Linked DNA regions of Homo sapiens: regions 2 and 3 are each linked to region 1. The links come from fine-mapping of genetic effects on gene expression. A gene starts in region 1. Each other region holds a variant in brackets. All regions are shown on one strand. Distances are between the middles of the regions.

The links. PIP is the estimated chance that this variant, and not a neighbour inherited with it, causes the effect. A credible set is the group of variants that fine-mapping cannot tell apart.
Region 2: its variant is the best candidate, but not a certain one, in a credible set for the expression of EPN2 in spleen (GTEx, PIP 0.53).
Region 3: its variant is the best candidate, but not a certain one, in a credible set for the expression of EPN2 in tibial artery (GTEx, PIP 0.69).

The regions. Positions count from the first base shown.
Region 1 is chr17:19,231,830-19,243,049 of GRCh38, reverse strand. It overlaps EPN2 (epsin 2), which reads right to left and starts at 5,684. Exons shown (of 11, transcript NM_014964.5): 1 at 5,519-5,684. RefSeq lists a silencer at 5,307-5,776.
Region 2 is chr17:19,316,549-19,325,926 of GRCh38, reverse strand. The region is part of intron 7 of EPN2 (epsin 2); the gene reads right to left. Among named protein-coding and RNA genes, the nearest start is that of EPN2-AS1, 15 kb to the right of the region's middle. RefSeq lists an enhancer at 8,222-8,761. The variant C/G (reference allele first, on the strand shown) is at 4,843.
Region 3 is chr17:19,303,711-19,314,930 of GRCh38, reverse strand. It overlaps EPN2 (epsin 2), which reads right to left. Exons shown (of 11, transcript NM_014964.5): 5 at 4,934-5,046; 6 at 2,787-2,879; 7 at 1,652-1,826. EPN2-AS1 (EPN2 antisense RNA 1) reads left to right here and starts at 8,670. Exons shown (of 3, transcript NR_048576.1): 1 at 8,670-8,992; 2 at 10,993-11,116. RefSeq lists enhancers at 4,177-5,092, 5,093-6,009, 8,578-8,707, 10,536-10,735. The variant G/C (reference allele first, on the strand shown) is at 4,909.

The DNA.
Region 1 (11,220 bases):
AGCTCAGTGATTAAAGTGCCCAAAGCCACCCAGCCAGGAGGCCCATTAGTACCCACACCTCATTCCAAAGCTATCTGCCACATGGCCTTTGAAGCCAAATTAACTGTACCACTTGGTGTTCTCAGCTATCGAGCTGCTGCAACGTGCAACTACCTAAGAGGGGTGGGACCAAGAGGAAAAATGAAGCCTGCACTCAGAAGTGATTAATTATAAATGCTTTTAAATCCACATCATGCATTAGCCCTAAACAATCAGCCGTCCCCCAGGATGAGCCTACTTTTCCCTGTTCTATATATCAGCAGGGTTACCATGAAGAGAAGATGGGGAGTCCCTTTATTTACAGCCCTTTGCATGTCCAATTCCTTGTATTGCTTTGAACAGAAAGAGAATTAAGTTACCTGTCCTGTCTCTAGAGGGCTTGAAAGTGAAGCACACTCTGCCTAGACCAGGACCAACAGGAAACAGAATCAGGAAAAGGACTTTCTATGCCCAGGAACGAAGCAGGCTCCAGCACCTAGGTACTAGGGGAATGAGTCACAGAAAGAATCCAATGCATGGATAGGGAGCATTTTAACAATGTTGCGGATCTGGTTCAAAAGAAGACAGGTTTTTTGTTTTTGTTTTTTGAGACAAGAGTCTTGCTCTGTCACCCAGGCTGGAGACTCACTGCAACCTCCCCTTCCCAGGTTCAAGTGATTTTCCTGCCTCAGCCTCCTGAGTAGCTGGGACTACAGGTGTATGCCACTATGCCCGGCTAATTTTTGTATTTTTTTGGTCAAGACAGGGTTTTGCCATACTGGCCAGACTCGTCTCAAAAACTCTAGGCCTCAAGTGATCCGCCCACCTCAGCCTCCCAAAATGCTGGGATTACAGGCATGAGCCACCGTGGCTGGCCTAGGCTTTTTTTTTTTTTTTTTCAGATCAAACACCAAATCTAGTGTCTCTCAGCTAAAATGATCCATTAATTATTGACATTCAAACCACAGTGTTTTCAAAGGTTCTAAGGTTAGGAAAGAGCCAGAAATCTCGTTATTCACAATTCCCAACCTTCTAAATAAACTTGGTGGTGACTTTCAGACAACAAATTTATTCTATTATTTAAATGAATACCTATTATTTTGTGGGGCCTTCTACAGGGGCCAGTGGAGCAGAAGGGACCCAGGCCTGGGAATTACACAGATTCACTTTGAATCCTGGCTGTGCCAGTTCCTCACAGCTTACTTAACCTCTCTGGGCCTCAGTTTTTCTACTCACAAATGGGTGATAATCCCTATGTTAAATGTTGATGGAAATTACAGTGGTTTAAAAAAAGGCTGCTGAAACGGCTTTCAACATATACTTATTTCACTGTATTTGTTTTTCTAAGTTTCTATTTTTAGTTAACTTGAATGAACTAGTTAAGCAATAAAATTCCATTGACGAACTTATCAGAAAGTTTGTCAATTTTTTTTTTTTTTTTTTTTTTGAGACAGAGTCTTGCTCTGTCGCCAAGCTGGAGCACAGTGGTGCGATCTCGGCTCACTGCAACCTCTGCCTCCCAGGTTCAAGTGATTCTCCTGCCTCAGCCTCCCGAGTAGCTGGGACTACAGGTGTGCACCACCACGCCCAGCTAATTTTTGTATTTTTAGTAGAGATGGGGTTTCACCATGTTGGCCAGAATGGTCTCGATCCCTTGACCTCAGGGTGATCCGGCCGCTTTGGCCTCCCAAAGTGCTGGAATTACAGGCGTGAGCCACCATGCCCGGCAAGTTTGTCAATTTTCAAAAACTCAACAGATGGACATAAACATTCATTTCACAATGCATCTGACAAAAAACAAATGTGCTCTTCCCATCCTCAACCACCTTAATCATATCACCCCACCTCCCTCAGTCCACTGTTAACTTGCAGTGTGTCTCTTCATCCCCATGAGACTTGGTCCTCGAAGTAGGTAACAGGTATAATAACATTTTGGAGTCCAACAGATCTGTTCAAATCACTTACTGGCTGCGCGACCTCGAGCATGTAACTTAAGCTCCCTAGGCCTCAGTTTCCTCACCTGCAGATGAGGTGGATAAACCTATGCAACTGACACACAATTGCTGAACCAACAGTAGTGATTTCAGCAACAGTGCGACAGAACAGTAGGGAGCCATAAAAATGTGCTCCCCTGCCTCGAGGAATACTGGTGACAAACCTTTACTGAGCATCTACCATCTATCAGAGACCGAGCCTGGTACTGGAGAAGTAAAGACAAGCTGACCACTGGCCTCAAAGACGTCACAGTGTCACAAGAGCCCCAGATACACGGACAATGTCGTAAGTGCACCAGCAGACTGTGTGGGTTGGTGAAGGTAGGATAGCAGAGAAAAAGGGGCCAAACATCGGACGAGCTAGACGGCAAAGTATTGACAGAAGAGGTCTGTTTACACCGAATACATGAGTTAAAAGTCCAGCAGACAAAAAAGGGATACAAACTACGTAATTCCTCACATCTTTTCCAGCCTCAACTTCCCCGAATCCAAGGCCGGCCATGGTGGCTCACACCTGTAATCCCAGCACTTTGGGAGGCCAAGATAGGTGGATCACTTGAAGTCAGGAGTTCGAGATCAGCCTGGCCAGCATGGCAAAACCCTATCTCTACTAAAAATACAAAAATTAGCCGGGCATGGTGGCACACGCCTGTAGTCCCAGCTACTCGGGAGGTTAGGCAGGAGAATCACTTGAACCCAGGAGGCAGAGGTTTGCAGTGAGCCAAGATTGCGCCACTGCACTCCAGCCTGGGTGACAGCGTGAGACGCCATCTCAAAAAAAAAAAAATTCCCCAAATCCAAGCCCTTTGACTTCTCCAAGGCTCAGGGTCACCAGGTATACATGTCATAAAATGACAACAATCGTGGTCCTTCACACCCCTATACACCAGAGAGAAAGGTTATGGGGAACAGTGAGAACCGCCAGAAAACTTAGAAAATTTTAATGTACTTTCCAAAAGTATGACAAGGACAATTCCATGCATAAAAATCTCATAGTACTTCAGTTCACAACCGAAAGTTGCCGCTCCTCCTAATTAAAGTTAAAAAAAAAAAAAGTCCGAAAACTTTTCAACTTTTGCAGGACTCTTATCAGAATCCCAATTCTTGGGAAATCCTCCGCTCATTATGGAAGAGGGTTAGTGATAACAGAGAATTTCTACAAAGGTTGGGTCATTTTTCAAGGCTGCATACACGATGCTAGATATTATCACTTGAAAGTTTTACATTTCTTCACACCTCGAGTGCTTGGCCCAACACACACTGCTGGAAGTTTTCCACAGAGCTCTCCATCTGGCCAGCTCAGGCTTCAGAGAGGCAAAAAGCCTCTGTAAACCAGGGAAACTTGGTACATCCCACAAGACAATCCGAACTGGCTCCTGGTCCGGGGACTTGTGGGACGCAGTCCTGAATCATGCCTTACAGTAACTTACACTTTACCAAAATCTTTAATAACCAGTATCTCATTCCCTGCTTACAAAAGAATAGCCCAGTGAGACTGGTAAAGATGACTAGCCCAATTTTAAAACCAGGGAAATAAATAAGCTTTTAAAATGTAAAAGTAAAAATACAGATAAATAAAAGATTTAGGCCGGGAGTGTTGGCTCACGCCTGTAATCCCAGCACTTTGGGAGGCCGAGGTGGGCGGATCACATGAGGTCAGGAGTTCGAGACCAGCCTGGCCAACGTGGCGAAATCCCGTCTCTACTAAAAATACAAAGATTAGCCGGGCGTGGTGGATGGCGTGCGCCTGTAATCCCAGCTACTCCGGAGGCTGAGGCAGGAGAATCGCTTGAACCCAGGAGGCGGAGGTTTCGGTGAGCCGAGATCGTGCCACTGCACTCTAGCCTGGGTGACAGAGACTCCGTCTCAAAAAAATAAATAAATAAAAAATTTAAAAGTTTAGGTGCGCTTCCCCAACACAATCACTTGTCCCAAAAACAAGCACCGAACAAGTACCATTCAGAAGCAAATTGTAGTCCCTTTTGATGTTCATTTAAATACAGATGAAAACTTAATTATCAATGCTAACTCAATCACTGCTGTGCCAGATTCAGCATAAGATTTTGTCAGCACCTAAAATTCTGTATCTAGAGCTACAAGAGGCACGTTTTCTGCCAAATCTTCGTTATATTACATAATGAGAGGAAGCTTGGATTCTTAAAATTCACCTTTTCCCATCATTTTAACACCCTGTTCCAATCCCTTCTTTCACAGGATATTTTCTGGAGGTGAAAAGGAATAACTCATTACTTCTCATATTTTCCTGCCCACTTTCTTGCATAAATATTAAAAATAAAGGGGAAGGTAGGGTCCTGAACATCTCCCTAAAAGATAAAAAAGTTATTAAATGTGGTAAACAGAGCCTGGAGACCTAGCTTCTAGTTCTGCACTGACACAGTATCACTGCGTGACCTTGGGCAAATTACTGCAGTTCTGGGCCTCAGTTTCCCTCATCTGAACCCTAATGATGGTTAAGCCCTCTCCGCTCTTAAAGCACAGATTTTAGATACGTCCCCAGGGAAGCACAACTGTGAAGGAGTCGCCCAGACGGACTCCTTGGGCGGAGAAACGGCCTTCCACAAGCTCCGGCGGGGGGATTCACAGGGAGCTCAAGCTGCCCCAGGGAAAGCCACTGGGCAAACTTCAGGTCGCAAACAAAAACCTGTTGGCACCGACTCCTCTAGCAAAGGCCAGCCTCCCAACGCGCTCGGCTCTCGGCTCTAGGGGAGCCGCCCCACAGGGAGAGAGAGGAAGTCTCTCCTGGAAGAGGCCAGACCCCACGCACCCATTCACCCACCCGGATCAGCCGAGCAGGACCGCCGGGCCGGGTGGGTCTCTGCCATCCCACGCGGAACAAAAGGCAGCTGGAGCCTGGCTCTTCCGCCCCCGTCCCCGCTGTTCCGTGGGAGTGGGGGCTGGGGAGTGGGGAGCCTGGTCCCCAAGGACGGAAGGGGGCCCTGCTACAGCCCCCAGGAAAGGTGAGACGGGCGGGATCCCGGACAGAGATAAGGACCCCTCCCCCGATTCCCGGAGGGCGCCCGGACCGGGCTCTGCACGGGGGCTGGCGGGAGACCAGGCTGGGCTCAGGAGGAAGGGGCGCCGGGCTCGGGGAGAGGAGGAACGTGCTCTGGGGAGGGGGCGGGGTTGTTCCAAGATGAACGGGGCTCCAGGATCCGAGGTAGGAGTAAGGGGCGCCCTGGACTCTGGGGACATAAAAGGAGATGCTCGGTGATAGGGACGGGTAAGGGGGGAGATCCTTGCAGCGGAAAGCTGGATCCAGATGGGAAGGGGGCCATGCTCCAGTCCGTGGGGCGGGGCCTGGTTGGAAAGAAGGGGATCCCCCAGAGCCTGGCGTAGGGACCAGCGGGGCGGCAGGGGCGCATGCCCTGGCGGGGCTGGTGAGGTAGGGGAGCCTGTGCTCTGGGGGCGTCCGCGCCCTGGAGAGGGGGAGGGTCCTCGCCCCGGGGACTCGCTCTGGCCTTGGAGCCCCACGGGCTGTGGCTCACCTCTGCTCCTCCGGGCCGGCGTGGGTGCGCCGCTGCGGCCACCGGCAGCGCTCGAGAGGCGGGAGCGACCGTAGCCCGCGGAGCCGCCGCCACCGCCGCGTCTGGCTCAGTTTGACACCCACACACCAGCCAACATGGCGGCCGGGAGGGGGCGCGCCGGACGCGTGCGCGCGCCCTCAGGCCCCGCCCCCGAGGCCCCGAGGTCCCGCCCCCACGCCCGCAGACCACGCCCCTGCGACCCCGCCAGAGCCCCTCCCTAGTGGCCCCTGCGCGGCTTCCCCTCCGCCTCCTGCGCTCCAGGACCCCACGCGGACGACCCACCCTTCCGCAGCGCCCCACAGTCGACGCCCGAGCCCCCAAAAAACCCCCAATCCCGAGCGCCACACAAACCCTGGCAAATTAATACCCGAACGCGCGCACTCTAATCCCCTTCAGGCCACTCCACCCCGTACACACTCACGGCCCCCCCACACTCACGGCCGGGCAGCACGCGCAGACCCCGCCCCGTCAAGCAGAAACTCACGCTCCGGCCTGCCGGTTTCACTCAAAAACCTTGTTCAGTAGGAGAGACTGGAAGGGGGCCAGGGCCTGCCGGGCGCTGGTAGGGTTGGGTTCTTAGGCTACAAGTGTGTTCACTTTATGAAGATGCGCGGAAGTACACTTTGGATTTGTGCGCTTTTCCGTGCGTGTATTTCACGTCAATAAAATATACTCAAAAACGGAGAAGTCTCTAGGCTTCTTTAGGCTGCTCAAGGGGTTACCTAAGGGCACGAATGGCAAGGGGTTACCTACATGGCACGAAAACGGAAACCCTTGACTGGCGGGCACCCACAAAGCACCTCCTCTGTGCCAAGCCCTGTGCTGGGCACAGAAATGAGACAGCCCCAAATGCCTCGAATGAGAGTCCCGGAACTGGAGGGGCCAGAACTGGAGGCTGCACCTCAAAGCTGACTAACCTGCTCCAATCAGGGTGGGAGTCAGCAGAGACTTCTCACAGCAGGGGCGCGGAGCATGAGTCAGGGCTTGCTAGGTGGGCAGAGGGCACCATCCCTGTTGCCTGGGTGACATCAACACTCTGCCTAGCCTTGGCTTCAGGGAAGCTGTGGCCAGAAGTCTTCCTCTGCCCTAACTCACTGAGGGACCTTAAACAAGTCACTGTACTTCTCTGAGCCTCAGATTCCTCCTCCCTGTACAGGAACCAGGGGATGAAAGTATCCCTTAAGGTTCTAACAACCCAGGATCTGGAATTCCATTCTCTGGCAAAAAAAAAAAAGGTTGTATCTTTCCAGGAATTCATCTATTTATTGTAAGTTTTTTAGTGTGTGTGCATAGACGTGTTCATAATAGTTTTTGAGGGCTTTTTTGTGTTTGTATGGGGTCGGTGGTAATGTCCTCTTTGCCCTTTCTGATTATGTTTACTTGTATCTTCTCTTTTTTCTTTATTAGTCTAGCTAGTGATACAATAAATACGATAAAAATGGAGAGAGCTTGTAACACGTTTGCAAAACCACATAGCCACTTTTCCTTTGAAAAGTCAAACACTGGTAGCTCTAGATGCTAGAAACACTCTCCAGTTAACCACCCTTCCCACTGCTTGGTGCCCCTTCTCCACCAGCAGAGGGAATTATGCCCTATGTGCCTGCCTTGCAGCAGAAGCCGGAGCTCCCCGTTTTGAACTTGGTCCACCCTCATCCCAGAGAATGCCCTCAACCAGTCCAACATTCCTTGTGAGCCTCACCTCTTTACCCCATCTCCAAGGAAAGCAGAACTTTACACTGCAATCATGCTTCTGCCCTGAGTTTACAATGTCAGATGAGTTATAACACAGAGCTGATGCACAGCACGGGCGTGATGCTTCTAAATCAGCACTGTTCAGCAGAATTTCCCTCCACGATGGAAATGTTCTTTCTGCGTGCTGTCCGTAGGATAGCTACGAGTCACAGGAGGCCAGCGAGCACTTGAAATGTGGCTAGTGAGACTGAGGGGCTGAATTTTTTAAACTTCATTAAACTTTTATTAATTTAAATGTAAATAGCCATATGTGGCTAGATGCTACCATGCTGACCAGTGCTGGTCTAAAACCTTACCACAATTCCACAAGTGCACATTCTTTTTTTATTTATTTGTTTTGAGACGGAGTCTCACTCTATTGCCCAGGCTGAAATGCAATGGCACAATCTCAGCTCACTGCAACCTCCATCTCCCAGGTTCAAGTGATTCTCCTGCCTCAGCCTCCCACGTGGCTGGGATTACAGGCCCGCACCCCCACACCTGGCTAATTTTTGTATTTTTAGTAGAGACAGGGTTTCACCATGTTGGCCAGGCTGGTCTCGAACTCCTGACCTCGTGATCCTCCCGCCTCAGCCTCCCAAAGTGTTGGGATTACAGGTGTGAGCCACCGTGCCCAGCAAGGTGCACATTCTTGCTGTTCACATTTTACAGACAAGAAATTGAGGTTTGGAGATATGCTGGGGCTTGGCCACCCAGGCCCACTTTTCCATATGCAGAGCCTAATACTCCCTTCACTACCCACCTAGCAAGTGTGTGTAGCCGCACAGATAATATGCAAGCCTGGAAAGAGAACTGGATACAGATAATGAGATGATGAGCTAACCTACAGGACAGGAAGTGAGTTGGAGAATACCAGATTAGCCCAGGCTTGGGAAGTGGAGGAGGGTGTCCTGAGGCCGGAAGACCGCCACGTGCAAGGTCAGAGGGGACATTCTTGCATTCCTCAAAGTCATTTCTCTTTCCTGGACCCCCTCCTTGAAGCGTATCAGCCCCCTGGCATTCCTCTCTCAATTCATCCTCATGATGATCCCTTGACGTCAGCAGCCCTATTCCTATTTTAGATGCGGAAACTGAGGCAGCATGTGGCAGGGCTAGGATTCAATTCCAGGTTCTATGAGTCTAGAGCACATAAGCAGTCTTGCAGAGGAACTTGCAGGATAAGCTGAACAATTTCATCCGTGCCCAAAGCAGTCCATGGAAAACAGGGCTGGAGGAGACACTCTCATCTGCCCTTGCAGAGGTTTGGAGGTTGGTTCCAGGTGGATAATGGAGCAGACTGATGGGGGCCGGTTGGAGAGGTGTATTTCAGAAGAAAGAGCTGGCAGTGCAGGCCAGGGGTGTCTCTGGGGTTAGGGAAGGAGGGTTTCAAGCAGGAAGGGACTTTGGGGGAAAGACTGGCAGGCAGCAGACAGGGACAGACTGCATGCTGAATGAAAAGAATCACTTAGCACAGGTGCAGAACAGGCTCCCCGGGATCTTCACCAAAGGCTTGAACTCTATATTCAAAACTATTTGTCCCACAAAAAGAAACTTGTGTTGGCAATCCAGAAACACCTAATTTCTTGTCCACCGACTTGCTGCTTGACCATGACGTCACTGCCCCTCCCTGGACCTCAGTTTCCCCATCTGTGAAGTGGGAATAATAACCCCTCCCACTCCCTAGGATTGCATTCTGGCTCAGGTGAAAAGGCAGAGGAGGAAATGCTTTGGAAACTGTAAATGCACTGGATGGGTGTTGATGGCAGTTCTCTTATTAAGGACATTGAAAAGAATGGAGCCATCCTTTCCCTTCTAGGGGTTGAAAGTCTAGGACAGAGAAGTTTTGAGTTTGGGCAGCATGAACATGAGCAGAAACCAAATGCCACATAGACAATCAAGAGAAAGAGCTATGACAGCTCTCACAGGAGGAAGTTTCCTTCTAGCCCATGGGGAAGGAAGGACCTGTGCCAACATCCTGGAAGTGCAGGTGCTGGAGAAAGGAACTAGTAACAATGACAACAAAGTAGTGAGCATTGTGCAAATGTTTTGCATGCAGTACCTCATTTCCTCTTCATAAAAAACCCTAAGAGGTAGAGACTACCGTTATCCTTATTTTACAGCTGAGGTTCAGAAAGCTTCCATTATTTGCCCAAGATAACACAGCTAAAAAGTGGTAACCCTGGAAAACCCAAGCCTAAACTCCAAAGCTAAACTTTTTTTCTTTGTTTTTTGAGACGAAGTTTCGTTCTTGTTGCCCAGGCTGGAGTGCAGTGGCGCGGAGTTCACCGCAACCTCCGCCTCCCAGGTTCAAGCAATTTTCCTACCTTAGCCTCCCAAGTAGCTGGAATTACAGACATGTGCCACCACACCTGGCTAATTTTTGTATTTCTAAATTTATTTATTTATTTATTTATTTAAGATGGAGTCTCACTCTGTTGCCCAGGCTAGAGTCCAGTGGCGCAATCTCGGCTCATTGCACCCTCCGCCTCCCTGGTTCAAGCGATTCTCCTGAGTAGCTGGGATTACAGGCATGTGCCACCATGCCCAGCTAATTTTGGTATTTTTTTAGTAGACACGCCGTTTCACCATGTTGGTCAGCCTGGTCTCGAACTCCTGACCTCAAATGATCCGCCTGCCTTGGCCTCCCAAAGTGATGGGATTACAGGCATGTGCCACCATGCCCAGCTAATTTTGGTATTTTTTTAGTAGACACGTGGTTTCACCATGTTGGTCAGCCTGGTCTCCAACTCCTGACCTCAGATGATCCGCCTGCCTTGGCCTCCCAAAGTGATGGGATTACAGGCATGAGCCACTGCACCCGGCCCTTCTATTTTTTTAGAGACGGGGTTTCACCATGTTGGCCAGGCTGGTCCTGAACACCTGAACTCAGGTGATCTGTCCACCTTGGCCTCCCAAAGTGCTGGGATTACAGGAGTGAGCCACCATGCCCAGCCTTTTGTGTGTGTGTGTGTGTGTGTATGTGTGTGAGAGAGAGACCGGGTCTTGTTCTGTCACCCAGGCTAGAGTGCAGTGGCACAATCATGGTTCACTGCATCCTCAATCTCCTAGGCTCAAACAATCCTCCTACCTCAGCCTCCCAAGTAGCTGGGACTACACCACACCTGGCTATTTTTTCCAATTTTTTTGTAGAGACAGGATCACATAATGTTGCCCAGGCTGGTCTCAAACTCCTGGAGTTGATCCCCCTGCCTCAGCCACCCACTCAAAGTGCTGAGATTACAGGGATGAGCCACCATGCCTAAAACTAAACTCTTGGGAAGAATCTGAATAGGCTGAAGGGAGCGACTCCTTCTCCCTTCCAGCTCTGAGCCTGAGTCAATCAGAGCTTTCTCTCCCTGGTCAGTGATTAGTTCAGGAATGGGCACCTGACTCATAGCAGAGCAATGACTCTCAAGCCAAGCCTGGGACTTCTACAGAAATCATTGAAAAAAGAAGCTTCTAGGGGCCGGGGTGCAGTGGTTCATGCCTGTAATCCCAGCACTTTGGGAGGCTGAGGCGGGCAGATCACCTGAGGTTAGGAGTTTGAGACCAGCCTGGCCAATATGGTGAAACCCCGTCTTTACTAAAAATACAAAATTAGCTGGGTGTGGTGGCGTGCACCTGTAATCCCAGCTATTCAGGAGGCTTAGACAGGAGAATCGCTTGAACCTGGGAGGCGGAGGCTGCAGTGAGCCGAGATCATGCCACTGCACTCCAGCCTGAGGAACAGGAGCAAAACTTCATCTCAAAAAAAAAAAGTTAGCCAGGCGTGGTGGTACATGTAATCCCAGCTACTTGGTTGGGAGGCTGAAGCAGGAGAATCGCTCAAACCCAGGAGGCAGAGGTTGCAGTGAGCCAAGATTGTGCCATTGCACTCCAGCCTGGGCAACAAGAGTGAAACTCCGTCTCAAAAAAAAGAAAAAAAGAAGCTT
Region 2 (9,378 bases), 84 kb before region 1:
AGCAATCTTGCCAAACTGTTAATTAGAAGTCATTCCAATTATTGATTCTAATAATAATTCAAATAATTCTTAATTCTAATAACTTATCTGTAGAAATTTTTTCATGTTCTATGTACAATCCCATCACCTGCAAATGATGACTATTTAGTGTCTTCTTTCTAGTCCTTTATACTTTGTCTTTTTCTTGTCTTACTGCATTGGCTAGGATCACCAGTTACATCATCAAATAGAAGTGCTGGTAGTTGGTATCCTTGTCTTGCTCTTGATGTTACAGGATCAATTTTTAATATTTTACCATTAAGTTCAATGTTAGCTATAGGCTTTTTTCCTTTTAGAAGCCCTTTATCAGGTTATGGAAGTTTGCCATTATTCCAAGTTTGCTAGAATTTGGAAATAAATGGCTAATGAATTTTATCAAATGGTTTCTGCCTCTAAGATGACCACATGTTTTCTGTTTTAATCTGTTAATATGGTACATTTGTAAATTTTCTAATGAGTTGGTTCTTGCAAACAAAGTACTTCATAATGTACATCTTTGAAAATATTTCCCTGGCTTGGGTTTTGTAATTGTTTCTTTCCTTAGGATTTTTACATCTATATTCATAACCAGACTGGCCTGAAATGTTTGTTCTCACTGCACTGCCCTTGTCTGGTGTTGCCATTAGGCTTCTGCTAGTCTCATACAATGACTAGGAATATTCTTTATTTTCCTGTTCTCTAAAGGAGTTTGTATGAAAGTGGGATTGTTTCTTGAATATTGTTAGTACTTACTAGCAAAGCCCTCTGGGTGGATTTGCAGAAGGGGAGGATTTTTAAATACCGATTCCATACCTTCCATGATTACAGATTTCTATTTATAGGTTTTTTATTATTCTTCAGTTAGCTTTGCTGTTTCCTTTTTAATTTTATCCATTTTATCTAAGTTTTTGGATTTGTAAGCACAGAGCTGATCAAAGAGTCAGCCTCTCACCCGACATGAAATCCTGAGTGTGCCGGCAGTTATGCTGTTTCATTCCTAATGCTGTTTGTGCCCTTCCTCTTAAAAAAATTTCTTGCCAGAAATTTGTCTATTACTCTTTTCAATTACTGACTTGTCTTTACGGATACTATTATGTGTTTATGTTCTTTTCATTAATTTCTATCTTTATCCTTATAATTTCCTTTTATTTTACGTCAGTGTAATGCTATTCTAACTTCATTATATCTTTTTTACTAATGTGAACATTTAGAGCTATAAATTTATTTTACTATTGCTTCAGTTGTCCCACAAATTCTTATGTAAAAATATACTATTGGCCAGGCGCAGTGGCTCATGCCTGTAATCCCAGCTCTCTGGGAGGCCGAGGTGGGTGGATCACCTGAGGTCGGGAGCTTGAGACCAGCCTGATCAACATTGAGAAACCTCATCTCTACTAAAAATACAAAATTAGCTGGGCGTGGTAGCACATGCCCGTAGTCCCAGCTACTCGGGAGACTGAGGCAGGAGAATTGCTTGAACCCGGGAGGCAGAGGTTACAGTGAGCTGAGATCACGCCATCGCACTCCAGCCTGGGCAACAAGAACAAAACTCCGTCTAAATATATATTTAATTTGGTTCTAAATATATCTGATTTTCATTATAATTTTTTCTGTGACTCAAGAATTTAGAAGTGTTCTTAAAATTTTAGGTGTATGAAGGTTTTCTACTTATCCTTTTAACTGATTTTTTACATAAGTGTACTGTGATCAGAAATTGTGTTATATGTGATACCAATTTTTTGCAATTTGTTGAGACTAGCTTTTCTGTCTAGGACATCATCAATTTTTTCCAAGTATTCTGCATGTGACTGCAAAGAATGTGTATTCTCCAATTGCTGGGAACAACAAATTCATAAGCTTATGGATTGTGCCGCTCAAATTTTCTTATATCCTTATTACTTCTGAAATGTTCTCCCAAATTATTTCCCATTTCCGATGCTCTTCATTCTGTCCTGAAGATCTGAGTTTCCATCTGGTTTTCCCTCCTATCAGCCTGAAGAACTTCTCTTAACATTTCTGTGGTACAGATGTGCTGGCAACAAATTCTCTTAGTGTTTTATTAACAGATGTCATCCTTTCAACTTTACTCTTCAAGAACACTTTCACTGAATACAGAATTCTGGGGGTTGGCAGTTTTTGTTGCTGTTGTTGTTTCCAAATTTAAAATATCTTTTTTAAAAAAATTATCAATTCTTGGAAGAAAGATGATTTTGCTAGCAATGGCTTTCTAGTTGACTGTGTTTTTCTTGCAGCACACTGAAGACTCTATGCCACTCAGACATCTACTGTTGCTGTCAATAAGTTAGCTATCCATTTAGTTGCCATTTCTTTGTAATGAATGGCCTGTTCTCTGTAGGTTTATTTAAGGTATTTTCTTCCTCTGGTGTTCTGCAGTTTCCTGATGATATGTCCAGGTGGGGATTTCTTTGATTTATCTTGCTTAGGATTCACCAGGCTTCCTGGATCTGAGAAGGAGCATCTTTCCAAAATTCTGGAAAACCCTGTCAGCTTTCAAATATTAGCTCTTCTGAAACTCCAAACAGATATGTGTTAGGTGTCCTCACTCTGCTCCCGTGTTTACCCCCAGCCACACTGATTCCCAACTGCTTCCCAAATGCCTGGCATCTTCTGGGCCTCTCCGGCCCTCTTATTTTCTCTTCCTGCCTTCTCTGACTCCTCTGGAATCCCCCCCTTGACTTTTAGATCACTTATCATACAGCACCATAACTATTATTTAACTATGAGTCTCTCATGCACTGTAAACTCCCTGGAGTGAGGGCTACCTTCAGCCCTGGCACCAGACATTAGGGTGGCACCCAGCAAGCTTGTGACAGCCTGGCTGAGCTCTGAGGCCTAGAGAAAGGCAGCAGAAGGTGGCAGTGATGTGTCAATCTCAGAAGACCAGGGAATGCTCCCCTGAGCCTCCGAGACAACTAGTCTCTTCCCTCATTCCTACTCTGAATTCTACAAATGCTTCTCTTAAAAGCCCCAGCTCTGCTGCTCAAGGATGGACAGGTGAAGAGGAGACTCCTTGGCTTTCAAAAAGATGAACCAACTGCTAGGCATCCTACATGTAGCTTCATGCCTTCTCGTCTCTGAAATGCTGAATAGCTTTAGTAAGGGCCTATTAAGCCACACCAGCCACTACCTTTTTTTTTTTTTTTTTTTAGAGACAGGTTCTTGCTCTGTCACCTAGGCTGGAGCGCAGTGGTGCAATCACAGCTCACTGCAGTTTCAACCTCCTAGGCTCAAGGGATCCTCCCACTTCTGCCTCCCAAGTAGCTGGGACCACAGGCACACACCCCCATGCTGGCTGATTTTTTTATTTTTTGTAAAGATGGGGTCTCCCTATGTTGCCCAGGCTGGTCTCACAGGTTTCAGTTGTCCCACAAATTCTTACGTAAAAATATATTATTGGCCAGGCGCAAGGAGACACTGCACCTGGCCCACCAGCCACTATCTTGGTGGCCTTTTTCACTTTTGGCCGGGATCAGCTACTGGCTAGCTGTAGCAGCACTAGGAGGGAGAGGAGGAGAGTGCTGCCTTCACTCCTTCCCAAGCTTGCCCCGGCGATGGGGGCCTGGCCAGGCCAAAGCAGATGTCAATCTGCAAGCTTTGTTCCCAACATCCCATGGATACTTGTGCCTTTCGTTTCCTCATGGCCTGTCCACTCCTGTTTGGACTCAGGGCTTCTCCTGCTACTGCCCCAGAACCCACAACCTTCTAGAGGCTCCAGAAATAACTGTTTCCATCCAGAAGCTTCTTCTGACACTTCACTCCTCGTCTTCCAGTGTCTCATGCAGATCGTCCTCCCCCAGGACTGAAGCTGCCCTTGCCAGGTCCACCTCTGCTCGACATGGGGAAGGGGCTATCAGTAAACAAAAATCTGCCCCCTGCTGGAATCACACTGTAGAGACAAGCCCTCACTCTAACCCCCTGCAACAGGACACCTTGTGGGTCCTCAGCTCTCTGTCCCAGCTGGACGTAAGTGGCATGGTGGAAATGACAAATCAGGGAGAGAGCTGACTGCAAGCCGAAGAGCTGTGGTGTGACTTCAGGACTGCGGTGACACAACACAGAGGACACGGGAGACCTGGGGCCAAGTGCCAGGCTGATTCTGGCCCCCTGTGGAGCCTGGGGGAGTCAACATGCCTTCCTCACTGCCCATGCTCAGCAGCCCAGCTGTGCCTGGATAACAGACTGGAGCCTCGCTTTCCCTGCAGCCCTGACCATGCATCATCTCCCCTGCACAATATCTCACTCCCCAGCTACTATCCCTTCCCACTTGCCTCTGTCAGGGGACATGCCCCGGTTACTTCTATCCCCCACTCCTGCTTTCTCCTGCAAGGATGCCCTGGTTCTCCTTGGAAGAATTCTCCCCTCACCCACTTCCAGTCAGTCTCAAAAGGGACAGATCCTGCCCTGGCAACAGAAAAGGGTTCTCACTGGTTAAAGTCAATCTGCAAAGTGTCCCCAACTCCAGTCCCCCATCCCTAAATCCCAGAAATGGTACTGGAGCTACAGAGAAATCCACTCTCTCTATTCCCTGGGCTGTGTTAACTGGGACTATGAGGTGGGCACCAGAGGCAGCCACTGTGCGTGCCAGAGCAAAGGGTTGAGCTTCTGAGGTGAACAACACAGCAAAGGGGGTCTGAGTGTTGGTGGTCACCTCCTAGCCACTGGGTCAAGCTGAGGGCAGCATCACATCTCGAACAAACTGGCTCCCCTGACATACTGTATGTGGGGCACTTGCTGGGAAGGCCCAGCCCCCACTCTGCAGCCTCTATGCCAGCCCGCCATGCAGTTCCCACTCTAAACCCAGCT[C/G]AAAACCCTTCTCAGGGCACTCATGCCGCTTGTGTGCATGTGAGACTGCATCTGTCCCCCTTGCCAAAGCATGTGCTCCATGAGAACATCGGCTGGGTCTGCTTTGCTGCCCATCCCCGAGATCCAAGCCTGACACACAGAGGGTGTGCTCCATCACTAACTAGGGATTGAAGAGAGGTCACAAGGATCAAGGGACCCACAGGACCTCAGGCTGGCAGGGACTTTGCAGTTTATCTGCATCTCTGCACACTGGAGTTCAGTGACCACTTCTAACAGGTTCTGGATAAATGTCCAATTCAGGGGCTCAGAAACACAACCAGATTAGAGTGGCCCATAATCTCCATCCTGATTATCTAAGACATGGAGCTTTCAAGTGTCTTAGACTGAGTGGTATTCATGCACCCTGGGCCAGGGGGCACCAGACTAGTGGTTCTCAACCATGGTTCTTCTTGGGAAGCTCTTAGGGATTTTAGTAAAATACTGATGCTGTCCTCTGCATACACACAGATTCTGGGGTGGGCCTGAGCATTTGGATTTTTAGAAGCTACTGAGATGACTCAAATGGGCAGACAGGATGCATAAGAAACACTGAGCTCTGGGTGCACCCAGACCTCTCACCAAGCCCTCCTCAAAAATGAGGCCCCATGTGAGCACCCAGCTCAGACTTACAAGCCTGAGTGGGCAGATGCGTGGTGGAGACAAGCTCTGGTCTCCCACGGTCACCTTGTTCTATCCAAGCAACATTTGGTCAGCAGTCCCCAGGCCTGGCCCCAGGATGGCCCCTCCCTCTGAGATAGAGAAACAGACAGCCACTACAGCCAGCATGCGGGTCACAGGCAGCCATCAATGGCAAGAGGGCAAGAGGCAGGCCTGAGGACGGGGTGACCACATCCCCTGAGTAGGGATGTCTGAGCCATGATTTCAAAAATACATAAGAGTTTGCCAGGCAGACAATGAGACACAATATAAAGATTAGGCATTTAAGGGAATCCAGGATGCCTGAGCCCCTGCAGAGGCCCTCACCAGAGAGGAGTCTCTGAGCTCTGCTCCGAGCCCCAGGTCCCTCAGGCTTCGCCTTTCTGGCCTCAGCCGCTGCACACCCAGGCTCCCTGCAAAAGTATAATCTGTCGCTGGGCATGGTGTAATCCCAACGCTGCTCACGCCTGTAATCCCAACACTTGGGGAGGCCGAGGCGGGTGGATCAAGGTCAGGAGTTGGAGACCAGCCTGGTCACTATGGTGAAACCCTGTCTCTAATAAAAATACAAAAATTAGCTGGGTGTGGTGGCAGATGCCTGCAGTCCCAGCTACTTGGGAGGCTGAGGCAGGAGAACTGCTTGAACCTGGGAGGCGGAGGTTGCAGTGAGCCCAGATCATACCACTGCATTCCAGCCTGGGCAACAGAGGGAAACCTTCTCTCAAAAAAAAATAAAAATAAAAAATAAAAAAAAAAGGGGCCAGGCGAGGTGGCTCACGCCTGTAATCCTAGCACTTTGGCAGGCCAAGGCAGGTGGATCATGAGGTCAAGAGTTCAAGAACAGCCTGGCCAATATGGTGAAACCCCGTCTCTACTAAAAATACAAAAAAATTAGCTGGGCGTAGTGGCACTCGCCTGTAATCTCAGCTACTTGGGAGGCTGAGGCTGAGTCAGGAGAATTGCTTGAACCTGGAAGGCAGAGGTTGCAGTGAGCCGAGATTGCGCCACTGCACTCCAGCCTGGGTGACAAAACGAGACTCCATCTCAAAAAAAAAATTTAAAAAGTAGAATCTGTCCTTCCATCTAGACGTACTCTCAGACAGTGAGGTTCTAAACACAGTTTAAACTAATAGGTTTATATCTTTAAGAGTTAACACAAGGCATTTTAACATTTCTGGAAATTTTTTTTTTTTGAGACAGGGTCTCACTGTTGCCCAGGCTGGAGTGCAGTGGCATGGTCTTGGCTCACTGCAATCTCTGCCTCCCGGGTTCAAGCGATTCTCATGCCTCAGGTTCCCAAGTAGCTGGGATTACAGGCACACACCACCACACCTGGCTAATTTTTTGTATTTTTAGTAGAGACGGGGTTTCACCATGTTGGCCAGGCTGGTCTCGAACTCTTGGCCTCATGTGATCTGCCAAACTTGGCCTCCTAAAGTGCTGTGATTACAGACGTGAGACACCATGCCCAGCCAACATTTCCGGAAGAATTCTTTCTACCATGAACTCTGCAATATGTGCAGTATCTCCACTGCACGGGTTCTGAAGCACTCTCCATGAGCCAGCAGCACGCTGACCCACCATCCAGGACTCATGGGCCAGGCTTCCACGTGAGAACCCCACACTCCAGTGGAATGCCACCTGAAACTATTCCAGAGACTCTTCTGACACCTCCAGTTAGCTCTTATGGGCCCTGCTTCCCCTTTAGAATCTGCTATTAAAATAACAAACAACAGCACTGCTAAGAATTTTAAAACTCTGCAACTGTATCATGCACAATGTTGAAACTACAAGTTTTGGCTCAGAAAGAACCCCCTACTCTTTTTTTTTTTTTTTTTTGAGATGGAGTCTCGCTCTGTTGCCCACGCTGGAGTGCAGTGGCATGATCTCGGCTCACTGCAACCTCCGCCTCCCGGGTTCAAGCGATTCTCCCTGCCTCAGCCTCCCAAGTAGCTGGGATTACAAGTGCCCACCACTACGCCTGGCTAGTTTTTGTATTTTCAGTAGAGATGGGGTTTCACCATGTTGGCCAAGGATGGTCTCGATCTCTTGACCTCGTGATCCGCCCACCTCAGCCTCCCAAAATGCTGGGATTACAGGCGTCAGCCACCATGTCCAGCCAAGAACCCCCTACTCTTATAGCCCACACAGACAAAGTTGGTCACAGCCCAGACAGCTTTGAACATAGAGTGAAGTCTGTGCTTGAATCAAATCCTGACCACCTCCAAATCACCCAGGTAATCATGGACAAGCTGTTTGGCGTGGGTGGGCTCTGTCTAGTTTGCATTCTGCAAGTGACACTGGGGACCCATGTGTATAGGACACTGCAAACTGCTGGGCTGAATTCAGACTATACAAATGGGCAAAGCCCCCCAGACACATACAAAGTCCCGTGGCCAGTGTGACCTCCTTCTTTGCTGTGTGCGGGGGAGTCATGGAAGGTCACACACTGTGGCACCTTGCTTTCTTGAAATGTGACTTGGAGACAAAGTCACAAAGTCACAATCATTCCCTGAGGGCCAGCTGTACCCTCAGGGAACGCCTGCTGGCTCGGGGAGGCAATGGGCATGCTCCTCCTCTATGAATGGACAGTAGATCCGCTGCAAGGCTTCTCTCTGTGCTCTCCCTCTCCACGTCCTCGGCAGGGTCCAGGCCATGCCACATACCCAATCAATAAATGCTTGTTGAAAGCTCAAGTGAATGAGAGGAAACGAAGATGGAACCAAGGTTTGAAAGATCAAGCAGTTTCCGGCCTCTTCCTCTGTGGGGCCCATTCACAGGGAGCCTGTGTCCCGGTCGCCTCCCACCCGCCAGCCTGGCTCATCCCGAGCCTCACAGATGAATATTCATGTGCACAGGGAGGCAGTCACAACGCGGGGGGGTGGTGCGTCACAGAAGAACTGAGCCGTGCAGAGGTCACCAAGAAGCCAGTAGCACCACCTGCTGCTGCCAGGGCGGAAGACAGCCTCTGTCCCAGCCCAGGCAGTGGGCGGGAGTACAGAGAGAGGGCTCCAGCCAGCCAAGGTCTTCTGAATCAGCAGGCTATAAGCCCTCCTCAGACCAGGTGGCTGCTTTGTGTGTCTGGAACAGAGGAGGAAGCGCCCCACTGACCTGGCAGGCTCCAATCTCCCTCCTTTCAACCCTGAGCATTTCCTCCCAAGGCCACTTGGCCAAGTTGCTCCTAGTGCTGCTTGGAAAAAACTGGTAATGATGGGGCTCACTACAAATGGTGGCTTTCAAAACAGTGTTTCTTTCATCCAGAGGGCACAGCTAACACTGTTAGGGGAAGGGACTCCAATCTTTCTAATTTATGAATGAGTCTCAGGATGGAGGGGTGACCCTGAAAATTTGCACTATTGGATTTAACTAGATGCTAAACAATAAATCCAATACCACACTCTTGCTCTGAGGCTACGCTGATGGAATGTGGAAGCAGAGGGTGTGCTAACACGCTTCAGTGAATGCAGGAGCTAGCAGAGGGCCATTCTCCTGCAGAGCTGGTCAACACCACCACTGAGAAAAGAATCTCAGAATTAAAAGAAATCACTGTGATTTTAATGTATTTTTCTATTGAAAGCAGAGTGCCAGAACTGCAAAAACACCCCTATGAACATCACTAGGCTGCTTAGTAAATGATGGTACAGCGTGGTATTGTTTAGAATTTCTAATGATGCCTAGAAATGCTCATGACACTACAAATTGAAATATACACATACATACACACGTAATTATATATACAATATAGCTTCAACTGAGTAAAAACATAATGCCCAGAAAAAAGACAGGAAGCAGACAAGCTAACATTTTAACAGTGGCTATCTCTCCATATTGGAATTTGTG
Region 3 (11,220 bases), 72 kb before region 1:
AACTTATGGTGGCCATCACTTTACAGACTAATCATTCTTCAGATTTAAAAATAAAGCCAAAGCCACTGTCTAAAAGGGTCTGCCAGCCCTGGGGCACCACAGTCCCCATGTGTGGTGAGTAAAACCATACCACAGGCTCCCTGGGGGTACCACACACAAGTGACAAACCTTGTGAACCAACCTCTTGAGCAGCCCTGGAACTGGCCTTCAGTCAATGAAAGCTGTGGGCAATTTTGCCTGGGGCTTTTCCCAAGGCCCAGAGGGCTCCTGCCAAAGGGGGTATAAGGCCCTGCCTGGGTTACAGAGGCCACCATCAAGCTATTGGAACTCACCAGATGCTAAAGGGCATCGGGGGCTGACAGTGTCTTCTGGACCAAGTCCAAGCACTTGGTAAGGCTGAGTGCAGGCCCTGAGTGATCTGGGCCCTTCTCCCCTGCTTCCCAGTTCACACCAGCTGGTTGCATCTGCACCCACTCCACCACTCCGTACCCCTCTGCTTCTCACACGCTGAGTCTTCTGCAGGGAACTCCCTGCCTCTTGGTGCCTGGACACCTTCTTTTCCCTGGGGACTCAACGGAAGTGGCCTTCCTCCAAAATGCTTACCTCACACTCCTGGACTCCTGTACTGAGTCTCATCTCATCCCAGGATGCTCTCAAATAACCTCCATCGAGTCCTGGACTACACAGTACTGCTATTACGCTGTGTTCCTGCCCTGCCCGCTCCTGAGCAGGGCCTTGACAACAGACAACAGGGACAATAATCACCTGTTGTCTCAGGGGTCATGCACAGCAGAACACAGCCTGTCACTTGGTACATTTTAGCAAACATCTAGGGAACCGAGTTAAACACAAGAGACGGTTCTGAGAGAAACAGAGACTCCAGGAGATACAGGCAAGATGCCACAAGATATACAAAGTTCCCAAACAGCCCACAGGTCAGCCACGCCCAGTAGGGTTTAGCACACCAGGAGGGGCCTCCCAGGGCACCAGGCCAGGAAGCCTTCATAAAGCCTGCTGGGCCATGCTCCTGCCCAGTGATTAAGAAACTCGTGGGCCCAAGATCATCACCCAAATCAAACCAGTTGTGTCATGCTCACATTTTGAACTTCCCACCACAATTCCTCTTACATCTCACATTAAGCAAAACTTTAAAATATTCATTTAGCCTATTAAACGGATTTTCTATTGCTTTAAGTAACAAGCAGAATTATAGCAAATGTATCCCCTTTTCATCAGCAGTGGTGGTAAGCACATCATAATTTCCATCTAATTACAGCAGCTTGATTTGGATGTTCCATGCTGTGTATTTTGGTTCCTTCAGCTGGGACGCTGGGTGTAACGCTGAGGCTGCAAGAGTTGAAACATGTCCCAGAGAAGGCACAAGCCATTTCTGATGCAAATGGGAGGTTGAGGGGAGGTTGACTTTCCTTCTCCCAAAGCAGAAAACCACTCAAAACAAAGAGGGAACACCATGCCACCATCCTCAAGGAGGAGGGCAAGGGCCAGTTGGATATCACTGCTGAGGGCTGGAGGAGCCTGGACACCCACCACAATCGACCAGACCCAAGTGGGTGAGAGACAGCAAGAAGCACTGCCCTGCCCCTCACCCATCCAGCAGGCAAGCACGGGAGACCAGTAATGGGGTCTTTACCAAACGATGGCCAGGGGTCTGAAGTACTCGCAGGAGCCGCTGGCCCGCCCCAGGGGTTGGTCTGGTTAGTGGAGGCTGACGGGCCCCAGGGCTCTGCTTTCTGGGCCGCGGGGCCCGAGCTGGGGAGAGCATCCATTAAATCCAACAGCGTAGTCTGCTGTGGGAGAGAGCCATGCTTTTAAGACAAAGAGAAGGGGACAGGTTTTACTATGCTACAGTTACAGCAAATACTCATGAACTAGCCATAAATATCACCCACCTGTGCCTCTTCCTCCAGTGAAGCCCTCTAGGAGGGGCTGAGAAGAACTTGGAAACTGAGCCGTCCCATCTCCCTCCCCGTCCAGCCAGCTCTCCAGTCACAACAAGCTATTTACTGTTTGCTAAACCCCCTCACCAGACTTCAGAGACCTCAGGGCTCAACAGACTTTTCCAGGCTAACACTGGCTTCTGCCCAGGCTGTGGACCTCCTCCAGAACGCCATCCCTCCCACCTGCCAGCCACCATCCAGGGCCAGCCTGAGGGCCCTCCTCCTCGGGCACCTGCATGCTCCCCACTCTCAAGACCACCCCATGTGTCATCAGGGATCATCAACATCAACCAGTCAGGAGCCAGGGGCTCCACCGGCCTCAGTAGCACTGTAACAGAGGAGGCCAATGGAGCCCCGGGGCCTGTGGTGTAGAAGGGGTCTGGGTCTTGACTGGATGATGATGAGCTTGTCAAGAGCCCAGCCATGTCCTGGTCATCTCTACATCACAGCAGGAAGCCTGGCACAGGGCTGAAGAGGCAACCAGCACTTCTGGGGGCACACCCTGCTGCAGGAAAGCGTTCCGCAGCCCCTGGCATGTAGCTCACTTGACAGCTGCCGTAGCCACAGCGGCAGGAGGCAGGCACTATCATCACCTCCATTTTACAAACGAGCAGACTGAGGCACTGGGACATTAAGTGTCTCCTGGTTAGTTCAGGTGTGTTTTCAGTCGCTTGCTCACCTGGCTCTCGCTCACTACAGGCATGAAGGTTATTTGCTGAGGTTGGAGAACTCACTGTGCATCACGCCATCCAGGCAAGTTGGTGGGGGGATATTGAGGCAACAACTACAGGACAGGGTGAAACATCTACCCTCCCAGCAAGCTCTTACCTCTTTCTTTTTTGGAATTTTAACTGTGTCCCTTCGGCTTTCTTCCAGGGCCATCTGTAATCTGAGGTCATCACCCCGCCTGAGGCGTTCTTCCTGTAGAGGGACAATGCAAACTGGTAATTGTAATAACATCACTGTACAGAACAAAGCCACACTGGCCAGAAACAGGAAATGCACATTGTATGATGCAGTATTTCAAAGGAAGATTTCAAAACTACTTGTAAAACACAATTACTTTCAAATCCCAAATGTGTGTGTACCCAGAAGGCCCCTCCCTCATGGCGACTCCTGTGACTTGGACCCCTGTGGGGTCACACCAGGGAGACTATGGCTCAGGTACCACCAAACTGGGGAAAGGGAATGCTTAATCTAAAATATTTTTTTCTCAAAATGAAACTGGCTTTATAAATTCTACTTATAGAAGCAATGTGTGTCCTTATAAAACACAAATCTGACAACCCAAAAAGGAATTAGAAAGAAGATAAAAATCACGTATCATTCCACCTCCACTGTGTATGCTTCCGGAAAATGGCTGCATATTTCTATGATTCCTAACAGAAATGATTCACTATCTTTATTTAAGGCAAAGTCACCATATGCAAAAGACAGGGTTGTCCTAAGCTTTTATATAATATAATAATTAAATATAAATAATATATTCCTTGTATTTTTTCTTTTCTTGTTTTTAAGAGATAGGGTCTCATGGTATTACCCAGGCTGCTACACAGTAGCTATTCACAGGGACAATGCCACTACTGATCAGCACGGGAGTTTGAACTTGCTCCCTTATATTTTATTATAAATATTAACTAAAATGGGCTCAAACCGTCCGTCTGTCCCTATGTTTCTCAGTGGATGCTACCACGCACCTTCTTCCTGGGCTGCTGGCCATGAAGCCACATGCATCCACCTGGGCAGTTACTGGTGGCCTGTTTCCCACTGCAGGGACAGAGAGGCCACAACTGAGATTGCCCACTGTCACTGAGCTTTAGAATGTTGCCAGTTATAGACACACAAACAATGCCGGGATGAACTTGTCAGTACTCAAATCTAACTATCCCCAGTATTCCTCTCTGAACACCAACTTCTAATAGAGGAGAGGAATCCCTGTGCTGCCCCTGGTCCCATCTACCTTTTTTAACCAAAGGTCATTGGAGACAGCCCTGATAACTGCAACCAAAGGCTTGACAATTTGTAAGGCCACTCTAATTGCTCCTTTCCCTTCTCGCTGTTGTAAAGTAATGCATGCTTACTAAAGAAAAATGGGGGCCAGGCACGGTGGCCCAAGACTGTACTCTCAGCACTTTGGGAGGCCGAGGTGGGCAGATCACTTGAGGTCAGAAGTTTGAGACCAGCCCGACCAACATGGTGAAACCCTGTCTCTACTAAAAATACAAAAATTAGCCGGGCATGGTGGCACGCGCCTGAAATCCCAGCTACTCGGGACGCTGAGGCACGAGAATCACTTGAACCCAGGACGCGGAGGTCTCAGGGAGCCAAGATTGCACCACTGCACTCCAGCCTGGGTGACAGAGTGAGACTCTGATTCAAAAAAAAAAAAAAAAAAAAAAAAGAAAGAAGGAGAAAGAGAGAAAGAAAAGAAAAGAGAAAAGAAAAGAAAAATGGGAACTGAAAAAAACTAAAACTATACATACTTCCATCATCAAAACACAAGCACTCTCATTTCGGGAGCATTTTTTCCCAGCCTTTGTTTTTTGCAAATCTCTTGCTACAGGTCAAAGTGCTTGGCGGGGGCTGGGCTGGCTCCTGCCCCTCAGGCCTGCATCCCTGCGCCCACCCTGCATGCCACCCTTCAAAGAGCCTGTGCAGGCTCAGCTCACTCAGGGAAAGCCCAGACACGTGTCTGCACAAGTGTTTCTGGGAAGCATTTTTAACTGGTTTCTTTCCTTGGCAATGACTTCCTAGAAAATCTTTCCTAAATGTAACTTTGCATGGGATCCCTCCCTGACTGGGAGGGACACTGGGTGACAAGAATACACACTTACGGCAGCATGAAATGCCATCTCAGCAAGCATATCTGAAATGTTTTGAAGACAGGGCTGTGTCTGCCATCTTCTTCCCAGTGAGCCACACTCCACCCTGAGCATGGGCAGTCAATGCA[G/C]TGCAGACCTGCCTGGGGCACTGACCTGCTCAGCCACTTCTCTGCTCATGGCAAGTGCCAGCTGCAGCTGAAGCTCCTCTTCTCCACTAGTCTGGGGCCGGGCTTGCTCCAGCTCGGAGGACACTCGCGGGGAGGTGGCTGTTGGGGAAGACCAAGTCATCATATGCAAAAGACAAGGCTGATACAGCTCCTGCACAGCAGTTTCCTGGGCAGACCACATTCCATTCCCATCTCAAACCCGCAAGGTCCAGCAGTAGCCCAACAATGCAGGCAGAGGAAAGGAAAGGCTTACAAATATTTGAATGTTAAAATCAAGTGACAGTCAAACGTAGCTTTCCCAACTACAGAAGTCCCCTGGTACCAACCAAGAGAAGATGCCTTTGGGTATGCAAGCCCCAGCCATCAGGCCTCACAAGGATCAGAACCTCAGTCTTCACGGCAGATCTGCAGTGCTCCAAAAAAGGAACTAACTCAAAGACCCAAAGTATAGCTCTTGAACAGATGAACCAAAGAGCATCCTTCAAACAGGTGGAGGGCATCTGGAGACCAAAGACTCCACTCCAGGCACACCAACATTCAAGAGCTGACTTTTGAGGCCAGGCGCGGTGGCTCACGCCTATAATCCTCACACTTTGGGAGGCCGAGGCGGGCGGATCACAAGGTCAAGAGATCGAGACCATCCTGGCCAACATGGTGAAACGCCATCTCTACTAAAAATACAAAAATTAGCTGGGCATGGTGGCGTGTGCCTATAATCCCAGCTAGCAGGAGAATCACTTAGAGACCCGGGATATGGAGGTTGCAGTGAGCCAAGATCTCGCCACTGCACTCCAGCCTAGTGACAGAGCGAGACTCCGTCTCAAAAAAAAAAAAAAAAAAAGAGTTGACCTTTGTCTCTCGTAGTGTTACTACGAGATCATGGAAAATGAAGCCCGCCCATTTCTGCAGTGACCCCAAACATTTTCGTTCTGTAAGCAGCTTTGTACACTGATTAGAAAGAAATGCAGATAAAAATGCAGACACTTTTGCTGTGCACTTAGCTAGTTTAAATACTTCTAAGCAGCTCCTGGAAAGACAGTTTTTATTGAATGAATGAGATGTGAACTCCTAGCTGATGTAACAAACCCCACGGGAGTCTTAACATTCACAACATAAACCATGGTGCTGGGTGCTGGGGCTTACACAGCCATCAGGATGTTTCACGATCAGGGAATCTAAATGCTTTTAGAAATTATTGTAGTTTTAGAAGTATGTGCCCACCTCTGCCCCCGTTTCAGGAAGGGTCCATAGCTTCTCTAAAACTCTCAGAACAAGACCTGCCCTCTGAGAGATTTGGAGCTACTGCTTTAGATGGTTCCTTGCCCTGTCCTCCTCCCGGGTCTCCGTGCAGGCTGTTCCCTCAGCGCACCCACCTCCTCTTTTGTAGTCAGAGCTCGGCTTCCCGGACCTGGTCCTTCCCCTCCATCCTGATGCTGTGTCAGACTCTGCACCTCTGCACCTCTCCCTTGTAGCACTCACCCCTGGCTGACAAACACCTGTTGGGTGGAGGCTTACATGCATGCACAGACAGGTGCATGCACAGGTCGACAGATGGACAACTACAGAATTCAATTTCATGGTTAACGGGTCATTTTAAAATGTTCTAATTGTGCCGGGCATGGCGGCTTATGCCTGTAATCCTAGCACTTTGGGAGGCTGAGACGGGCGGATCACCTGAGGCCAGGAGTTCTAGACAAGCCTGGCCAAAATGGTAAAACCCGGTCTCTACTAAAAACACAAAAATTAGCTGGGTGTGGTGGCGGGCGCCAGTAATCCCAACTACTTGGGAGGCTGAGGCAGGAGAATTGCTTGAACACAGAAGGCAGAGGTTGCAGTGAGCCAAGATCAAGCTACTGCACTCCAGCCTGGGCAAAAGAGCAAGACTGCATCTCAAAAAATAAATAAATGTTCTAATTGTGTATTAGTTTACTTCCTTCTTTCATTACATCTATTTTAGGAAACCTAACTAGCAGGATTCATTCACCTAGGTGTTGCTTCTGCCTTACTTTCCAATCTAAATTTGCTTCTTAGGGTTTTCCTCTTTGAGAGAAACTAAAAGGTTAGGAATAATTCCTGACAAAGGAGGCTTTCAGATAGCTGGGCCATGGCTATGGTGAATAAAACAGGGGAAGAGGCCTAAATGCAATTCAGGCCACAGACGGGATCCACAGAAGAACCAGGGGAGGTAGAAAGAGGCTGCTTCTGGGCAGAGGGCTGAGGTGGGGCCGGGCAGGAGACTGGGAACTTCTCTACCATGTGAGGTTGCCAAGCAGAGGCATCACCCTGTCATGAAATTCTTAAAAACACACAAAACATATAGCAATAAATTTACTTTGGAACGGGCCGGGCACAGTGGCTCACGCCTGTAATCCCAGCACTTCGGGATGCCGAGGCAGGCAGATCACGAGGTCAGGAGATCGAGACCATTCTAGCTACGAGGTCAGGAGATTGAGACCATCCTAGCTAACATGATGAAACCTCATCTCTACTAAAAATACAAAATAAATTAGCCGGGCATGGTGGTGGGCACCCATAATCCCAGCTACTCAGGAGGCTGAGGTAGGAAAATGGCATGAACCCAAGAGGCAGAGCTTGCAGTGAGCTGAGATCGCGCCACTGCACTCCAGCCTGGGTGACAGAGCGAGACTCCATCTCCAAAAAAAAAAGAAAGTTGCAGCTATAAAAACATAAATGTATTTTTCTAAATAAAATCAAGTCAAATCCCATCCTAGTGTTATCACTCAATTATATTTCCCAAAGTATCTCTTCAGAAATAAAGCTAGAGGGTAAAGAAAAGTCCTCAATCCACCTTAACAACTTGATTTCTTAATAATACACCAAAACAAAAAGTATATTTTTTTGTTCGTTTTGTTCCTAAACTTCACCTATGCCAATCAGAACTCTCAAGTTTGGGCTTTCCTATGTTCAAAAAGATGTCACCATCCACATGGAAGAGAATAAAGGAAGCCAGACAGTTCCTGGGGACTCTTCTCAAGTGAACAGGGCACTCACACCCAAATCATTAACCACTCCAGCCACCTGTTCCCAGCCTCTTTCCTGATAAGGAATCTCTGAGGCTTGGTTCACAAAACCCTTGCTATAAAGCAAATATTGCACTTACGACATCCTTCATTTACTACCAAATGGAAACCACAAATGAATCAAGTAGAAGGCTCATATCCCACCCCACCCCAAAAAAAGTGCTCTGGAAAACAAGCCCCATCCTGGCAGGGAAGCTGGTACTGAGTTGCACAGCTACAGTGCCTGATACAGCCAGGTTGGAGGGGGAGAGTGGGCACGGGGCTCTGAACTGGACCTGCTGGAGAAGTGAGGCCTCCTTTGTCCTCTGAGCTTTCTAGCACATCTGCAAGGCCAGAATAGCTTCAAATGCAAATGTACATGTTTACGTCTACCATAACTGACACTGTTAGAATAACGCACAGCTGGCACATACTGGCTCACCACATCATAGCTCGTCACATCAATGTAGAAATTAAAGACAATGGGTATTCCCCTGAATGTTGTGGTTTTCATAAACGGATGTACAGCTTTCAGTTCTGCAGATGGCAGAATTCTTGGCCACCAACCATTGAACATCAGCTGAGCTACACACAACGGGACTGAGCTTCGAGGGAGGATTCCAGCAGAGATATTCTTGCCTTGGTGACAGCAACTCAGCTCCACAAAGGGCCTCTTGTGCCCATGCACATGACAGTGAACACAGACGTCGTTGTGAGACAGGCCTGAATGGGCCCTTCTGACCACCTGAGCCTGGCCTTGGCTCTGCTCTGAGGATCTGAAGGTTCAGAGCTCACAGGGACCAAGGGAAAAAGCAAGTGCTGGGGGATGTGCCACTCTCTCATTGTTGCAGGTTGCTTTCCCAGACACTCACTGGAAGGAAGAACGGGAATTGTTAGTTTAAGCTCATCACTAAAGTCGCATCAAATGCACGGACCTTCTCCCAGGAAGGCGGCCTTTTGCATTATGAACCCCACTGGAAGAGCTCCAAGTCTTCACTTGCTGTGGTCAAGAACTGTAACCACAGGTAGGCCTTATTTCTATCCTTTCCAGTCTGTCACACCAGCTGAGAAAAAGCCTAAGGGGGAGAGGCTGAGTAGGAAGGCTAGAAAAGCCCAACATTTCCCTCAAAATACAATCTAAAAAGAAGACCAAGAAAACTCTCCCAACTCAGGCAGACAAGGGTCTCTCCCACTCGAGTCCACCCTGTCTGCTCCAGGGACTGCCCGGCAGAGCCTGGGTGCCTGTACTCTGTGCTGGGGGAGAGACACCCTTTCCCAAATGCGCTCCTAAAACAAAGGGTGAAAGATTTTTTAATAAAGATGCTTCAGTGGGCCACTTTCAGGTAACTGTGAAAGAAGGCAATCGAGTTGGTAGAAAAACAGGAAATTGATTCTTATCAGCTACATTTTGCAATTTTCCTAGAAAGTATGGAAGCAGCATCTGCCAGTCACATAGTGCTGATTAAAAAGCCTCCTCTAATCTGCATGGATAGGTCAAACAGAAAGAAAGTGGCAAGTACAAAAAACACAAATGTAGGCTAGGCATGGTGGCTCATGCTTGTAATGATGTCACAGCACTTTGGGAGACCGAAGGGGGTGGATCACTTGAGGCCAGGAGTTCGAGATCAGCCTGGCCAACGAGGGCAAAACCCTGTCTCTACTAAACATACAAAATTTAGCTGGGTGTGGTGGCACGTGCCTGTAGTCCCAGCTACCCAGGAGGCTGAGGCATGAAAATCACTTGAACTAAGCAGGTGGAGGTTGCAGCGAGCCAAGATCATACCACTGCACTCCAGCCTGGGCAACAGAGCAAGACTGTCTCAAAAAAAAAAAAAAAAAAAAAAAACCAAAGTATATTTTTACATTTTACAGCACATGGGACAGGATTCTACCATCAAATGGCTCTGTGCAGTGGGCAGCATGACTGCACTGGTACGTGAGCGTCACAGACCCTGTGGAGAAGGCAGGGTGAGGTCCTGGTTTTCCTATGTCCCTGGGCCTGGTGTGGCAATGCTGGGTACACAGGCATGTCTGACAACTCAGAAAAAATGAAAGGTTGCCAGGCCTTGGGGGCGTGAGAAGACCCCATGTGGGCCCAAGCACTGCTACCACCTCTCACACCCTGTGCATGTCAGCCAAGGGAAGACCAGATAGTGGAAAGAGCACTGGACGGACAAATCTTGTCCCCACCGCTGACAAGCAGTGGGAGTCCATGTGATAGCCTGACCTCTTTGAGCTTCTGCTCCCACATCAGTGAAATGAAGACAGTGGGGCCTGTGGGAGGAGGTAAACAACTGACCTACCAAGGGGTCAGGAGTGCTGGGATGCAGTTGGCTCTTCCCTGTGGATTCCAGCCCTGTCCTGAGCTGGTGCTCTTTCCTCCATCCATGGGGACCAGACCACCTGAGGGCTAAGCTCCTTCAGACACCCCACCCTCCACGTCACACACAGAAAGCGTGGCCCTTCCCAGGCCTCCGAGGAACAGGCCTGGGGTTGCTTTCTGCTGGGCTGACCTACTTCGAGGGAGGGGCTAGGGAGCCAGCACTGAGCACAGGGTCAGCGTCCACTGTCCAGTGGCCAGTTCTCTAGTTCAGCTAAGTTCCTTCCTTGTTACTGAACAGCAGTGAAACGCTTCCTCAATGTGGTGACATCATCCTGTGGTTCCAGGGGCCACTTCCTGAATCAGCAATGACCTTGGCTACTGAGGACGTTCCTGCCACTTCTCAACACAGGAGAGCCTCCAAGGCCCTTACTTTACCTCCTCGCAGGGAGATGCTGGGAAGGCTGCTTTTAGTCTAACGAGGCAAATTATAAAAAAGTTAAGTTCAGATTACACCAGGTTATTTATTTATTTATTTTTTGAGACGGAGTCTCACTCTGTCACCTAGACTGGAGTGCAATGGAGTGGTCTCAGATCACTTCAACCTCCACCTCCCGAGTTCAAGCGATTCTCCTGCCTCAGCCTCCTGAGTAGCTGGGACTACAGGCACGCACCACCACATCCAGCTAATTTTTGTATTTTTAGGAGAGACGGGATTTCACTATGTTGGCCAGGCTGGTCTTGAACTCCTAACCTCGTGATCTGCCTGCCTCGGCCTCCCAAACTGCTGGGATTACAGGCGTGAGCCACCCCACCCGGACTACACCAGGTAATATTTAACAGGAACATATATATATATGTGATGCAAAAGACAAAAAGGTGTATAATGAAAAATGCAATGAAGCATGACCACAGCCAGATCACTGTCCAGCC